Regions from separate parts of the Homo sapiens genome. Here regions 1, 2 and 3 are each linked to region 4. Evidence: fine-mapped expression QTL. A gene starts in region 4. Each other region holds a variant in brackets. All regions are shown on one strand. Distances are from middle to middle. Region 1 overlaps SNF8 (SNF8 subunit of ESCRT-II). Region 2 overlaps CALCOCO2 (calcium binding and coiled-coil domain 2). Region 3 overlaps SNF8 (SNF8 subunit of ESCRT-II). Region 4 holds the start of CALCOCO2 (calcium binding and coiled-coil domain 2).

Evidence for each region. PIP is the estimated chance that this variant, and not a neighbour inherited with it, causes the effect.
Region 1: its variant is fine-mapped to the expression of CALCOCO2 in cerebral cortex (GTEx, PIP above 0.99). The same link has a PIP of 0.9 or more in subcutaneous fat.
Region 2: its variant is fine-mapped to the expression of CALCOCO2 in whole blood (INTERVAL, PIP 0.92).
Region 3: its variant is fine-mapped to the expression of CALCOCO2 in whole blood (INTERVAL, PIP 0.96).

The regions. Positions count from the first base shown.
Region 1 is chr17:48,929,995-48,933,994 of GRCh38, reverse strand. SNF8 (SNF8 subunit of ESCRT-II) reads left to right here. Exons shown (of 8, transcript NM_007241.4): 6 at 649-790; 7 at 2,278-2,352; 8 at 3,383-4,000. The coding sequence ends at 3,520. Among named protein-coding and RNA genes, the nearest start is that of SNF8, 13 kb to the left of the region's middle. The variant G/A (reference allele first, on the strand shown) is at 1,544.
Region 2 is chr17:48,855,862-48,859,861 of GRCh38, reverse strand. CALCOCO2 (calcium binding and coiled-coil domain 2) reads right to left here. Exons shown (of 13, transcript NM_005831.5): 10 at 3,675-3,770. Among named protein-coding and RNA genes, the nearest start is that of CALCOCO2, 27 kb to the right of the region's middle. The variant G/TG (reference allele first, on the strand shown) is at 2,044.
Region 3 is chr17:48,935,949-48,939,948 of GRCh38, reverse strand. SNF8 (SNF8 subunit of ESCRT-II) reads left to right here. Exons shown (of 8, transcript NM_007241.4): 4 at 2,825-2,929; 5 at 3,707-3,779. Among named protein-coding and RNA genes, the nearest start is that of SNF8, 6.9 kb to the left of the region's middle. The variant C/T (reference allele first, on the strand shown) is at 2,446.
Region 4 is chr17:48,829,082-48,833,371 of GRCh38, reverse strand. It overlaps CALCOCO2 (calcium binding and coiled-coil domain 2), which reads right to left and starts at 2,337. Exons shown (of 13, transcript NM_005831.5): 1 at 2,294-2,337. RefSeq lists a silencer at 1,922-2,081 and an enhancer at 1,452-2,333.

The DNA.
Region 1 (4,000 bases), 100 kb before region 4:
CCCCTTTAAAATAGATAAGCATTCTCTAGTTTGCCACAGGTGACACTACCCCCATTGCCTCTTCAGCTCACTCATTCACATTTCCTGATGGGCATCTGCAGGTGTATCTTTGACCGCTGTCTGGATGTTGGAATGAGTGGTTCGCTGAGCAGACAGCCTGACTCCTGTGTATCTCCCATGATTGTCCAAGCATCACTTATTGCTCCTTGACCCTGTCTTTTTACTGACGTAGTTGAGTGTTGTGCAGCCTTTTATTTTAGAGGCAGGGTCTCGCTCTGTCACCCAGGCTGGAGTACAGTGGTGCACAATCACAGCTCACTGCAGCCTTGAACTCCTGGGCTCAAGTGATCCTCCTGCCTCAGCCTCCCAAGGATTATAGGCGATTGCCACCATGCCCTGCTAATTTTTTATTTTTAGTAAAGATAAGGTCTTGCTGTGTTGCCCAGGCTGGTCTCTAACCCCTGGGCTCAAGCAGTCTTCTCAATGTGGGCATCCCAAAAGTGTTGCGATTATGGGTATGAGCCATTGCGCCTGGCAGTTGTGCAGTCTTCTAAATTTTCTGTCAGTATCCTGCCCAGGGCAGAGCTGAAACTGTGTTGTTAGGTCTGATTCTGCCAAGGGTCGTTAAGCAACTCTTCCTTACCTCAGAGATGACCTGATCAGAGCCATCAAGAAACTAAAGGCACTTGGCACTGGCTTCGGCATCATCCCTGTGGGCGGCACTTACCTCATTCAGTCTGTTCCAGCTGAGCTCAATATGGATCACACCGTGGTGCTGCAGCTGGCAGAGGTACTGGTGCACCTTCGAGTGTGTGTGTGTGCAAGGGACAGTCTGTGAGGCAAGTCTGGAGCAGTTCTCAGCTCGTGCTCCCCATTATGCAGGTCTTTTGCTGAGACTATCCAGTGGATGAACTACTCAGGCCTGTGCTTGTTCAGCAGACATTTATTGAGCAGCTACAGTGCAAAGCACTGGGCCAGGCTGTGGGGCATATAAAGATGATAAAATTCCTGCTCTCAAGGAGCTTACAGTCTAGTCAGGTAGACAGACATGCAGACAACTAACTAGATTTCTTTGGGTAGCCAGACTCTTTGATGTCTTTTGAAACTACTTTATGGATTCTTCAAAAACAGATTTTAAAAAATCTTGTTTGCCATGCCCCCATCCCTCATCATGCCTTAAGCATATGCCATCTTCCCCCAAATCCCCATCAGGTATTTAGATGTGTTCAGTTTTATTATTTTTGAGATGGAGTTTCACTCGTTGCCTAGGCCAGAGTGCAATGGCGTGATCTCAGCTCACTACAATGTCAGCCTCCCGGGTTCAAGTGATTCTCCTGCCTCAGCCTCCCGAGTAGCTGGGATTACAGGTGTGTGCCACCACGCCCAGCTAATTTTGTATTTTTAGTAGAGATGGGGTTTCTCCATGTTGGCCAGGCCTGAGTTTGGTCTCGAACTCCCGACCTCAGGTGATCCACCCACCTTAGCCTCTCTAAGTGCTGGGATTACAGGGGTGAGCCACCGCACCCGGCCCAGTTTCCTTTAT[G/A]ACGTAAAACAGAACTAAATAAGGGAGGGGCTTTTCTGTATTGGAGGATGAGTAGAATGAGGCAGGGCAAGGGCTGAATATTTAAATAATGGAGGTTATTAGCAGTTTATGATTATCATCATTTCTTCCCATCAATTAATTGTCCAGAATCTTCCCTTGTCATGCTCTAGAGTGCTTTGCAGAAGTCTAACTCAGTATGTTAGTACAAGGGACCCCACTTTTTTGTTTTTTGAGATGGAGTCTCGCTCTGTCACCCAGGCTGGTGTGCAGTGGTGCAATCTCCGGCTCACTGCAGCCTCCATCTCCCAGGTTCCAGTGATTCTTCTGCCTCAGCCTCCCGAGTAGCTGGGATTACAGGCGTGTGCCACCATGCCTGGCTAATTTTTGTATTTTTAGTAGAGATGGGGTTTCACCATGTTGGCCAGGCTGGTCTCGAACTCCTGACGTCAGGTGATCCACCCACCTCGGCCTCCCAAAAAGTGCTAGGATTACAGGCATGAGCTGCCGTGCCTGGCCGGTACCCCAGTTTTAGGATTGAACCCACCAACCTACCTCTGTCATGCTGAAAGTCACTTCTCTCTCTCCCCGCTGGAACCTTTAAACATTTTCTGTGTTCTCTCATGCTTGACAGCTTTTCCTCCTGTCTGGGTAAGTCTCTTGTTCCTGGGCAGATCCTGGGTTCTAAGGGAAGGTGCACTCTTAACTGATTCAATCCCCATTCCTCCTTCCTTCAGAAGAATGGCTACGTGACTGTCAGTGAGATCAAAGCCAGTCTTAAATGGGAGACCGAGCGAGCGCGGCAAGTGCTGGTATGCAACTTTGGAACAGTCCAGAAAAGACAGGCAGGCCCCAGTTGGGAGGATGTGGGTTCCACAAATGCAGGAACTTCAGCATTGCTTTGCTGGCCTTCTGCCTTGAAGGCTACTGCTGCCATGCTAGAAGGAAGCCCAGCACTTCTCTGAAGATGGCACCAAAAAGGTAGAACTAGGAAGGCAGGTTCCTAACTCTGGCATGCACACAATACCAGGCTGCCCCTGCTACTTGGGGAACTGACACTCTCTCTCCTGAACATGCTGAGCCTGGAGTTGCTGGTCAGGAGATTAATGTAGTTTGTACTGGAAGTAACACTGTTAGTACAGTGAATTATTAACTACGTTAATTACATATCTAATTATCCACTAAGCATTATATTGCATAGTATATACTCTAGCTTTATATATACAAATTTCATCGTACTGAAGAATGAATGATGTGAAGAGGGAGCAATGTAAGAACTCCGGCTTCAGTACCTTTTTTCCTTATCCAAACAATTCAACTGTCTAAACCTTTCATCTGTAAAATGGGGATAACATAATTATTTACCTAATGATATTGGACAGAAACCACCCATTTTGAGCATATTATTTCCAGCTCTAGGAACTGAGTCTATTCTTGCATAAGTATGGTCAATCATGTTTGCTACCCGGAATAACTTAATTCAAAGGTAGCTAAACAGTGATCTCTGTTTAACAGTTTCTGGGAAAATGGAGGCAGTGATTTGCTGAAGGCCACACAGCAAATATTTCTGTAGCTATGTTCTTTCCACTATATTCCACTATGCTAGGCTTTACCCCTCTTCCCCAGCAGCACAAGTTAAATGACTTCGTAGCATTTTTCAAATTCAGGCAAAGGCCAAGGCCAAACAGCTCGTTTAGTTGGTTGTGTAAAGGTTTGAAGGCACTTAGTAGATTTAGTTTGAAAACCTCACTGAAGCCAAAATAGGTGTGGGGGTTGCTTACCTACCCTTTGTCTATGGAACCTCCCTGTTCTCAAACTGCTCTTCTTCCCTTTTCCCTCCAGGAACACCTGCTGAAGGAAGGGTTGGCGTGGCTGGACTTACAGGCCCCAGGGGAGGCCCACTACTGGCTGCCAGCTCTCTTCACTGACCTCTACTCCCAGGAGATTACAGCTGAGGAGGCCAGAGAAGCCCTCCCCTGACTGCATGTGGAAGGGCACACAGCAGCAGGCAGGGAGGAGGCGGAGGTGGCAAATAAACCTGGGCAATTTTGTTTATACAAAAAATAGAAAAAAAGTTCCAAGTTTTTCTTTCTTCCCTCATTCTTTTATTTTTGAAAAGTGCCTTCACGTTGCATTTTTATTGGAGGAAAACCTCGCTCGTTCAGTAAGCATAATCTGATTAACACAGAGAACGGCAAGCACATATAAAATGATTTTTGTAGGTCATCTGCAAGTTCATGGAAGAGCTGGGCCTAGAATGTGGGTTGTTTCCTGGCCTGTCTAGTCTTTGTAGCTGTGAGACATAGATTACAGCCTATGCTAATTCAAACCTTTTAAATAAAATGTTCCTTATCTCAAACTAGCTGGTCCTAATGGACCAGTAAATAATATTCACTTTCAGTCTCTTCTGGCTTCCTCTGTAGAGGCTCTAGGTTATGACAGAGTTAGCTGTGAGTATGA
Region 2 (4,000 bases), 27 kb before region 4:
TGGCCTCCCAAAGTGTCGAGATTACAGGTGTGAGCCACTGTGCCCAGCCTATACCTGAATTTAAATATATTTACTACATTTTGTTTATATTAATACAAAAAAGTTTTAAATCTCTAAATACATGCCAACTACAGGGAGGAACAAATATGTAGATATATGAAAGTGGCAGGAGCTATATTAACACTGCAACTATTCTGATAGGTATATTAACGTTGAAACTATTGTATATTATTATTGTTGTTGTTAAATTTGTTTTTTTTAGAGACAGGGTCTTGCTTGGTCACCCAGGCTGGAGTGCGGGGTGAGATCATAGCTTACTGCAGCCTTGAACTCATGGGCTCAAGCAACCCTCCCACCTCAGCCTCCTTAGTAGCTGGGACTACAGGCACACGACACCGTGCCTGGCTGATTTTTAAATTTTTTGTAGAGATGAAAGGCTCTTGCTTTGTTGCCCAGGCTGGTTTCAAACTCCTGGCTTCAAGTGACCTTCCTGCCTTGGCCTCCCAGTGTTGTATATTATTGAGAGCAGAATATTTTTTCAGTTTCTTTCCTAGAATAATTTCTTACACAATGCAAATATTCACCTAAAATAATTTTTCCTTCTTCAGGTCTTATCCCATTCAAATGGATATATCAACACAGAGAATGAGTAAGAAGACAGGGTGGGAGGGAGGTAATGAAAAAGAGAAAAAAATTACTAAAAGTGGCACAGACAGCATTTCAAGTTCTTAGGAAAAAGAAAATAAGCAAAATTCCCTTATCATCTTAAGAGGGCTTTACTACAGTTCTTTTTTTTTTTTTTTTTTTTTTTTTTTTGAGACAGAGTCTTGCTCTGTCGCCCAGGCTGGAGTGTAGTGGTGCGATCTCAGCTCACTGCAACCTTCCACTTCCCGGGTTCAAGCGATTCTCCTGCCTCAGCCTCCTGAGTAGCTGGGATTACAGGCATGCACCACCACACCTGGCTACTTTTTTGTATTTTTAGTAGAGATGAGGTTTCACCAGGCTGGTCTTGAACTCCTGACCTCGTGATCCACCCGCCTCGGCCTCCCAAAGTGCTGGGATTACAGGCGTGAGCCACAGCACCCGGCCTACAGTTCTTAACAAAGCTTCCAAATACCAAATCTTTCCCTTTGTTTTGCAAACTGTGTGTGCACCTGCCCCCCCCCACAATCAAACTAACTCAGGAAAACAGGGATTTCAAACTCAAGGTATAAATTAAGAGAATGGGAATAGGCCGGACACAGTGGCTTATGCCTGTAATCCCATCACTTTGGGAGGCTGAGGTGGGCGGATTGCTTGAGCCCAGGAGTTCAACACCAGCTTGGGCAACATGGTGAAACCCCCTCTCTACTAAAAACACAAAAATTAGCTGGGTGTGGTGGTGCGCACCTGCAATCCTAGCTACTCAGGAGGCTGAAGCACAAGAATCACTTGAATCTGGGAGGTGGAGGTTGCAGTGAGCCAAGATGGTGCCACTGCACTCCAGCCTGGATAACAGAGCAAGACTCTAAAAAACAAACAAACAAACAAAACAAAAGCAAAACAAAACAAAAAAGAGAGAATGGGAATAACAAGACTAGAAAGAGAACCCAAAAAGCCTTCTGCAATTATGAAACACATTGGCATAAATGATATAATCAAAAGTAGAAAGTGAGGGAGAATTAATGTTTTAGTAGGTATGAAGTTTTAATGTTGCAAGATGGAAAAGTTCTGGAGATCTGTTGCATAGCACTGTGATGCACTTAACTCTACTGAACTGTACACTTTTACATTATTAAGATGGTAAAATTCTATTCTATTCTATTCTATTCTATTTTCTATTCTATTCTATTCTATTCTATTCTATTCTATTCTATTCTATTCTATTCTATTCTATTCTATTCTATTGATGTAGTCTTGCTCTGTCAGCCAGGCTGGAGTGCAGTGGCACGATCTTGGCTCACTGCAAGCTCCACCTCCTGGGTTCACGCCATTTTCCTGCCTCAGCCTCCTGAGTAGCTGGGACTATAGGCGCCTGCCACCAAGCTCGCTAATTTTTTTTTT[G/TG]TATTTTTAGTAGAGACGGGGTTTCACTGTGTTAGCCAGGATGGTCTCGATCTCCTGACCTTGTGATCCACCTGCCTTGGCCTCCCAAAGTGCTAGGATTACAGGCGTGAGCCACCGCGCCCAGCCAAATTTTATGTGTTTTAACCGCAATTTTAAAAAGAAAAAAATAGTAAAAATGATCACTAGGAGGCATAGGCCAGAAGGATTATAGAGGGTAAAGATCAGGAGGTGGAGGTTGTAGTGAGTCACGATCATGCCACTGCACTCCAGGCTGGGCAACAGAGTGAGACTCCGTCTCAAAAAAAAAAAAAAAAAAAAAAAGGGCCGGGTGCAGTGGCTCACGCCTGTAATCCCAGCACTTTGGGAGGCCAAGGCGGGTGGATCACCTCAGGTCAGGAGTTCGAGACCAGCCTGACCAACATGGAGAAACCCCGTCTCTACTAAAAATACAAAACTAGCCAGGCGTGGTGGCAATTGCCTGTAATCCCAGCTACTCAGGAGGCTGAGGCAGGGGAATCGCTTGAACCCGGAAGGTGGAGGTTGCGGTGAGCTGAGATCGTGCCATCGCACTCCAGCCTAGGCAAGAAGAGTGAAACTCCGTCTCAAAAAAAAAAAAAAAAGGGTAAAGATGAAGAATTGATGGAAGTATAGATACAGGAGTAGCAGCCAGAATGCATGGACACCTATTATTTGATGCTGAGCAAGAACATGAGAATGGGCCGGGCGTGGTGGGTCATGTCTGTAATCCCAGCACTTTGGGAGGCCGAGGCAGGAGGATTGCTTGAGCCCAGGAGTTTGAGAGCAGCTTGGGCAACACAGCAAGACCTTGTCTCTACTAAAAATAAAAAAAAAATTAGCCGGGCATGGTGGCATATGCCTATAGTCCCAGCTACTTGGGAGGCTGTGGCAGGACGATCACTTGAGCCCAGGAGATCAAGGCTGCAGTGAGCCAAGCTTGTGCCACTGCACTCCAAGCCTGGGTGACAGAGTGAGACCTTGTCTCAAAAACAACAACAACAAAAAAAGAAAAAAAAAAAAAAGAAAAGAAAGAACATGAGAATGACCTTGACTTCAAGTACAACCACTTTATTTTTTGCCATATCATCTTCAATCAATAATAAATGTTGGTTGGATGAATGAATGAACCAATGAATGAATGAATGAATGAATGAATGAATGCACAGCATTTATTAGGGGCCTACCATGGGTCCAGCACTGGTACAGACCACCACTTCTGCTCCTGGTTTGGCAGCAGAGAAAAAGGAAAAAGTTGTGCTGAAGAAAAGGAGTTCCCCACTAGCATAAAGTTATGTAGGACGTTATTCCCCTATCCCCCAAGGCAACATATATTAGCTGTGAAGTTAAAAGCAAAAATAAGTTAGGTCTTCATCAGTGTGGCTTCTTTCAAGGTGACTATTGCCATGCCAAACAAATTTCAGTTGTAGAATAAAGACAGGGTTTTGTGGTAGATTAGGAAATTAGATTAAATTTACTCTTCGTTTAGGAACAACTGTTTCACCCACTGTCCCAGAAAGGGCCCTTAACTTTTTATTTTTTTCACTACATCTCTGGGCCACCCTGATCCTTCCCCTTAAAACCTTGGGGTTTTATACCCTCTTTCACACACTTACATCATTTTCTCCTTCCAATCTCTCTTTCTGTCTCTGCAGAGCATTACATATAATTTCGTTCTCACTCAGTCTTTTTGACAGGTCAAAGTTTTCATCCTGTCAACAATAAAAAAAATTAGGATTAGGATCACATATTGCAGTCTGGGTACAAGGTGAGAAATTGTAGAGAATCTGGCATTGCAAAGCGGGGAGACTGAGATGGAGGAGAACGCAACTGGGAGGAAGAAATGGTACTATGGGCAGGGTGCTAAATTAAAGTGACTTAAAAAGACACCTGAAGGCCTGAGCTGGCATCAAGATGCCAATTTTTTTTTTTTTTTTTTTGG
Region 3 (4,000 bases), 110 kb before region 4:
CCTGCACCACCAAATCTGGCTAATTTTTGTATTTTTTGTAGAGAGGAGGTTTCACCATGTTGCCCAGTTTGGTCTTCAACTCTTGGGATCAAGTGATCGGCCTTTCTTGGCCTTCCAGAGTGCTGGGATTATAGATGTGAGCCACTGCACTGAGCCCTTCCTCATACTTATAAACTTTAAAAAAAATTATTCACCGGGCGCGGTGGCTCACGCCTGTAATCCCAGCACTTTGTGAGGCTGAGGCGGGCAGATCATAAGGTCAGGAGATGAGGCCATCCTGGCTAACACGGTGAAACCCTGTCTCTACTAAAAATACAAAAAATTAGCCAGGTATGGTGGCACATGCCTGTAATCCCAGCTACTCGGGAGGCTGAAGCAGGAAAATCACTTGAACCCGGGAGGTGAAGGTTGCAGTGAGCCAAGGTCGCGCCCCTGCACAACAGCCCAGGCAACAGAGCGAGACTCCATCCCCCCAAAAAAAAAAAAAAAAGAAATTACTAATTTATTATTTTTTAGCATTGAGGTTTCTGTCACCTAGGCTGGAGTGCATTGGTGCAATCAGCCCACTGCAGCCTTCAACTCCAGGGCTCAAGTTACTTTCCTGCCTCAACCTCCCAAGTGGAGCTGGGACTAGAGGCATGAGTCACCGTGCCTGGCCCCAGTGTTTTTTTTTTTTTTTTTCTTGAGACAGAGTCTCACTCTGTTGCCCATGCTGGAGTACTGTGGTGTGACACTCTTGGCTCACTGCAACCTCCTTCTCCTGGGTTCAAGTGATTCTCCTGCCTCAGCCTCCTGAGTAGCTAGCTGGGACTATAGGCATGTGCCACCATGCCCGGCTAATTTTTTGTATTTTTAGTAGAGACGGAGTTTCACCATCTTGGCCGGGTTGGTCTTGAACTCCTGACCTCGTGATCCACCCGCCTCGGCCTCCCAAAGTACTGGGATTACAGGTGTGAGCTACCGCGCCCGGCTACAGATGACTGATTTTATCTCAAACAATGAATAACAATCATAAACGATATTTATTTGTGTGCCAGGCATTGCACTATATAATTTACTGCTTTTTTTTTTTTTTGAGACGGAGTCTCGCTCTTGTTGCCCATGCTGGAGTGCAATGGCGCGATCCTGGTTAACTGCAACCTCCGCCTCCTGGGTTCAAGTGATTCTCCTGCCTCAGCCTCCTGAGTAGCTAGCTGGGACTATAGGCATGTGCCACCATGCCCGGCTAATTTTTTGTATGATTAGTAGAGACAGGGTTTCAGCATGTTAGCCAGGATGGTCTTGATCTCCTGACCTCGTGATCTGCCCCTCTCAACCTCCCAAAGTGCTGGGATTACAGGCGTGAGCCACTGCTCCTGGCGTGGCCCCAACTTTGTAAACATATATGGGATTATAATATAATTACTACTGCTCTATAACCTACATTTTTGTTTTCTTTTTTTTTTTTTTTTTGAGATGGAGTTTTGCTCTTGATTCCCAGGCTGGAGTGCAATGGCGTGATCTTGGGTCACTGCAACCTTCGCCACCCAGGTTCAAGCGATTCTCCTGCCTCAGCCTCCCAAGTAGTTGGGATTACAGGTGCCCACCACCATGCCTGGCCAATTTTGTATTTTTAGTAGAGACGGGGTGTCTCCATGTTGGTCAGGCTGTTCTCGAACTCCTGACCTCAGGTGATCCGCCTGCCTCTGCCTCCCAAAGTGCTGGGATTACAGGCGTGAGCCACTGCGCCCAACCTGCATTTTTCACTGAATAGAATATTGTCGTCAGTGGATTGTTTATTTATTTATTTTTTATTTCTACACTCCTGGTAACTCACAGAACATTCAGTGGATTTTTGAATGCTGAGTCTGCATATTCTTTCTCTTAGTCTTGTCTAGACCATATTTCCCATTATATTTCACTGCATGCTTTGTGAATGGAAACTCGTTTTTTCAGTATCCTGAGCCAGAATTAGCCAAATAGAAATGACTTTTGTTTTATTTTTTAAATTTTTATTTATTTATTTTTATTTATTTATTTTTTTTGAAACGGAGTCTCACTCTGTTGCCAGGCTGGAGTGCAGTGGCGTAATCCCGGCTCACTGCAACCTCTGCCTCCCGGGTTCAAGCGATTCTCTTGCCTCAGTCTCCTGAGTAGCTGAGATTACAGGCACGCGCCACCACGCCCGGCTAATTTTTGTATTTTTAGTAGAGACAGGGTTTCACTGTATTGGCCAGGATGGTCTCTATCTCTTGACCTTGTGATCCACCAGCTTTGGCTTCCCAAAGTGCTGGAATTACAGGCGTGACCCACTGTCCCCGGCTGTATTTTTTTTTTTTGAGAGAGAGTTGTGCTCTTATTGCCCAGGCTGGAGTATGGTGGCGCGATCTTGGCTCACTGCAACTTCTGCCTCCTGGGTTCCAGCAATTCTCCTGCCTCAGCCTCCCAAGTAGCTGGGATTACAGG[C/T]GCACGCCACCACTCCTGGCTAATTTATTATTATTATTATTAGAGATGGGGTTTTGCCATGTTGGCCAGGCTGGTCTTGAACTCTTGGTCTCGAGCGATCCACCTAGCTCGATGTCCCAAAGTGTTGGAATTACAGGCGTGAGCCACTGCGCCCGGCCAGAAATGACTTTTAGATTGCCTGCCCTCTGGAGCCGTCTGACCCTGTTCTTCAGCAGGAGTTACCGTGAGTCCGATTGTTTCCTGAGTAGCAGATGGAGCAGAAGAACTTCATGCCATGCAGGGAAGACTTCCCATATGATAGATGTTTTAATGCAGGTTTGAAAGAAAAGAAGGGATGTAAATTAATCAATAACCGAGATTTTGTTTTTCTGTCTTGTAGCTGGAAAAGGATTTTGGTCTGAGATGCTGGGCGTGGGGGACTTCTATTACGAACTAGGTGTCCAAATTATCGAAGTGTGCCTGGCGCTGAAGCATCGGAATGGAGGTGAGGGTGGCTAGGTCCTGTGAACTGGACTCTGGACTTCTCTGAGAGGGAGAAAACCGTAAAAGATTATCGTTTCCATCCTGCAGTCTACAGGCCTCTAAGGACTTGAGAGACATCTTAGCTGTTTCATGCAGTTGAATCCATGGCAAGTCTCCATGGCCAAGGGTAAATAGAATTACCTGAACGATTGTCTCTGTTCTCCAAAGATCTTTGGCCAGGAAGGTCTAGTCCCTAGTCAGTACAGAAAATAGTAGAGAGGTAGGAAGTAGGCCTTTTCCCCTGATGTCTGATGTGTCTGGAGTGATTTTCTCATTAGTAACTATAGTCCTGCACTGTCTCTCCGACGTATGGGAATGCCAACTGAGTCTGTGTTCCCTAAAATGTGACCTTAAAATTTGTCATCTGGTGATGCCATCTTTCTTAGTAAGCACGTTAAATGGTGTGGATTGAAGTTACAGAAAGAAAACTTAAAACCATTTACAAATCATCATCAACTATAAATAGACACGGCCTTGATGTCAAGAGGACATTTATAGTTTTTCAAAGATGATACTGCTTTTGTTTTTAGATTTTCGTAGCTCTCTGTTGACAGGCCTAGCAAGGTCTCAGAATCCATTTCTCATATTATGGTCAGTTATTTCATAAGGAGAGTGTTAAAAAAAAATTAGGAACTAGAATGTTATTTGCTACTTGTAGGCCACTGGAATTGTAATGACTGTCAACTTATTTAAAGTGGGTAATCTCTTTTTCTGATTTCTGTTCCCTGTCTCCAAACAGGTCTGATAACTTTGGAGGAACTACATCAACAGGTGTTGAAGGGAAGGGGCAAGTTCGCCCAGGATGTCAGTCAGTAGGTCTTGTCTTCCAATCCCTTGGAGTACAGAAAGAGGTCTTTAAAATTCAGATGGAACTCTTTTCTCCCTATTCCTCATGTCTAGGCTAGCTTAGAAATCTGTATGATCTCCATATCATACAGGAAAAAAAAAAACAAAAAACAAACAAAAAATAAGAGATAGGGTCTCACTTTTGCCCGGGCTGGAGTACAGTGGCATGATCACAGCTTACTGCTAC
Region 4 (4,290 bases):
TGTTGGCCAAGTTGGTCTCTAACTCCTGACCTCGTGATCCACCCACCTTGGCCTCCCAAAGTGCTGGGATTACAGGCGTGAGCCACTGTGCCCGGCCTTCTGCTTACTTTTCTTTCTAAACGATTAGCAATTAGCAAAAATGGATGAATTGATTTGAATCCCGTTTCTCCCTGGCTATGGCAGAAATGCTTACACATAACCAGCCTTAAAGAATACCAGCAGTGGATACTATGGGTGTGTGTAGATGGCCCTGAAACAGGTAGCAAAAGCAAAGACACAATCACTGGTCTTCAAATTATCGAGCCATTTGCTCTAGCCCAAAATTTCCAAGTTAATTCTAGACCCTTACCTAAAATATGAAAATGTTTCAGAGTGTCTTACAAAAATTTTACACCCCAGGAGGCCTTTATTACTACTCATTAACAATTGTTTGAATTTGCTGTCCAGCTTTTTCTAAACAGGCCCTCATCTCACATCCACACCACCATAGTGCTGGCGCCAGTTCTAGGGGAAGATGGAAAAAATAGTTCTGGGACATCAGGTGCGGGCAACTGGAAACTCTGAAAGGCTCAAAGCTGTGTACTAATCTCCATTTTACTGAGACCATCCACTTTTCCCTTGACAGGGGTGATTCTAACATGCCATGTCCCTGTGACATGGGCAGTGACAGTGTTTGAAGTGTGGTGGAAAGGGGACTAGGCTAACAGCCAAGGGAGCTGGGTTCCTATCTTAGTTCTGCCACTCTGAGAGCTTGGCCAAGTCACAGTACCCTTTTCTGGCCTGTTTCCTCATCAGCAAAATGCATGGCTAAGGCTAGAAAATCTTCAAGGACCTTGCCTGATATAATGATGATCCTAAGTGAAGGAAAAAAGAAGTGAAAGAGTTCATTTAACTCTCTTTTCATCTAAAAATAATTAAGGATACATGACATTCTATCAATACATACTGCCAAATTAAATTTTTGTTTGTTTGTTTTTTGAGACGGAGTCTCACTCTGTTGCCCAGGCTGGAGTGCAGTGGCGCCATCTCGGCTCACCGCACCCTCCGCTGTCTGGGTCCAAGCGATTCTCCTGCCTCAGCCTCCCAAGTAGCTGGGATTACAGGCGCCCGCCACCACGCTCCACTAATTTTTGTATTTTTAGTAAAGACAGCGTTTTGCTATGTTTGCCAAGCTGGTCTTGAACTCCTGACCTCAGGTGATTCTGCCCGCCTGGGCCTCCCAAAGTGCTGAGATTACAGGCGTGAGCCACCGCGCCTAGTCAGCCAAATTAAATTTTTAAAGAGCCACAGATGTACTATCTGACTCGAAAGACAATATGACCTGTTAGTGCCAGGTAACTCAGGATTATCGACTACCTTTTTCAAGGCCCTTTCCATTCCACAGCTGTCATGTCTGCCAAAGGATAGAGTTTCCAGGTCCCTTGAAAATACCTGGGAAACTGAGCCATCTGGATATTCCTTAATCATGTATTCTCCACAAGCTACAAAGACCTACCACATAAAGTCCTTTACTTGCAATGGTGTTTCCAATAATAGAATAAGTTATATTATCCATATTTTACTCAGCTCCAACCATGGTCACTTGTTGGCTTGCATGTGAAGCAAGAATCCAAGTGATAGAAAAGAGTTAACACGTCCAGTGGGGTTGAAATAATATACGAGTGGGAACATTAGCTCCCAAACTAAGCTGGGTCAGTGGTGGAGGGGCAATGGATTAACTGTAGAGGCAGGTCACGACACCGTCTTTCCTCCTGCCTAGAACGTCTTCTCCGACAGCTGCAGCATGCAAAAGGCAAGGCGCTTCAGGGATCAAACCTACTCGTAAAGGGGGACACTGAGGCCCAAAAAGAAAGTAACTTGCTCAGGGTGACGCAACAAGGCTCCACCTCCGCCTCGAAGCCAACGGCGATGACATCCAGGCGAGGGATTACGGAACCACCACAGCCTGGGCCCGCGGGAGGGGACGGGACGCCACGACCCGTGGGGCGGCAGCCGCCGCCTCAAGACCCTCGCCGCCGCCAGGGGTGTCACTTCTTCCCGAGGAGCCTCCCACCCTGCCACACAGCACTGCAGCGCTGCCCTCCGCAAGACAAAACTGCCCCGCAACCCTCCCGGGCCGCGGGAGGGGCTCCAGGGCCTTCAGAACACCACTCCCACTATCACCCCAGAGGGTGAACTGCGGTGAGAACCGAAACTTGCCACACCTCTACCCCCGTGGCCCCTTCTCAGGACTGCAAGTCTGAATGTGGGCACCCCGAGGGCCTAACTGCCCCTTTCCACTTGAGGCACTCACCAGGGACAGCAACCAGCAGCGGCGCGACAGCAACAGGGCAGAGTGGGACGGGGGCGGGGCTAAGCACCCAAGGGAGAGCCCGTCCCGCCTGCCCCGCCCACACGTCACAACGGTCAGCAAGCCCCGCCCCCGCGCGGCGCTTGCTGGGACTTGTAGTGTTCAGGTGACCGGGCCCCAGGAGCGGTCTTCTGCCTTTGATGGCTCTCCTAAGTCCTGAGCAGCAATCTCACCGAAATAAACCTACTTCATCCCCTGGAAGAAGCTGTTTACTTTTCTTTTTTTTCTTTTATACCTTTATTTCTTTTTTCTTTTTCTGTCGTCCAGGCTAGAGTGCCATGGTGCGAACACGGCTTACTGCAGCCCCGACCTCCCGGGCTCAGGTGATCCTCCCACTTCAGCCTCCTGAGTAGCTGGGACAACCACGGTGCCCATACGGCGCCCGCCACCACGCCAGGCTAATTTTTGTATTTTTAGTAGAGATGGGGTTTTGCCATGTTGCCTAGGCTGGTCTTGAACTCCTGGGCTCAAGAGGTCCAGCTGCCTCGGCCTCCCAAAGTGTTGGGATTACAGACCTGAGTCATCGCGCCTGGGCTACATCTTTATGTCTTTCTTCCCTGAATGAGAAAGCTTTATACATTTGAAGGGCCATTAAGAGGTCATCTTCATTTTTCTCCTGGGTCCACTTAACACTACTTCACGAAGAGTCTTTATTTTTTTTGAGACAAGGTCTCACTCTGTTGCCCAGGCTGGTGTGCAGCGGGGCGATCTCGGCTCAGTGCAACCTCTGCCTCCTGAGTTCAAGCTATTCTCGTGCCTCAGCCTCCCCAGTAGCTGGGATTACAGGCACCCGCCACCATGCCCGGCTCATTTTTTTGTATTTTTAGTAGAGACGGGGTTTCACCATGTTGGCCAGGCTGGCCTTGAACTCCGTCTCAAAAAGAAAAAAGAGAATAAACTCATGGCCAGGCACAGTAGCTCACGCCTGTAATCCCAACATTTTGGGTGGCCGAGGTGGGAGATCTCTTGAGCCCAGAAATTTCAGATCATCCTGGACAAGATAGGGAGACCCTGTCTCCACAAAAAATAAAAAAATTAGCCGGGTGTGGCGGTGGGCCCCTGTAGTCCCAGCTACTCAGGAGGCTGAGGTGGTAGGATCACTTGAGCCTGGGAGGTGGAGGCTGCCATAAGCCATGATCACACCACTGCACTCCAGTCTGGGAGACAGAGCGAGACCCTGTCTCAAAAAAAAAAAAAAAAAAAAAAAAAAAGAATAAACTCAGTAAGAAAAGAATTCTGCTAAGTCAATTTAAAGAAAATCCCCCATCCTTAATATCTAATAACCCTGGCCTGCCTTCAACAAGAGTCCTGTTAAGTTGGTTTAACAAGAATCTCCTTTTAGTAATTTTCCATGCAGTGACCCCTCACTCTGCTTGTTGGCTATAAATCCCACTTGTCATTATTGTATTCAGAGTGCAGCATAATCTCCCCTTTGGTCCTGAATAAATTCTTCCTTGCCATTTTAACAAGTTTCAGAATATTTTTTTCTTTAACATCCAGAAGATGTTAAATGCTGTATATGCTGTCTATGAAAGATTAAATTTGGAAGTGCCCCTTCTTCCACTGTTTAAATGTGGAAAGAAATTTTTCTGTGCCATCTCAGGCAGGGGAATGAGCATTCCTTTTTTTTTTTTTTTTTTTGTCGAGACAGAGTCTTGCCCTGTCGCCTAGGCTGGAGTGCAGTGGCATGATCTGGGCTCACTGCAACCTCCACCTCCCGGGTTCAAATGATTCTCCTGCCTCAGCCTCCTGAGTAGCTGGGACTACAGGCGCCCGCCACCACGCCCGGCTAATTTTTGTATTTTCAGTAAAGACGGGGTTTCACCATATTGGCCAGGCTGGTCTTGAATTCCTGACCTTGTGATCCACCAGCCTCAGCCTTCCAAAGTGCTGGGATTACAGGCATGAGCCACCACACCCAGCGGGAATGAGCATTCCTA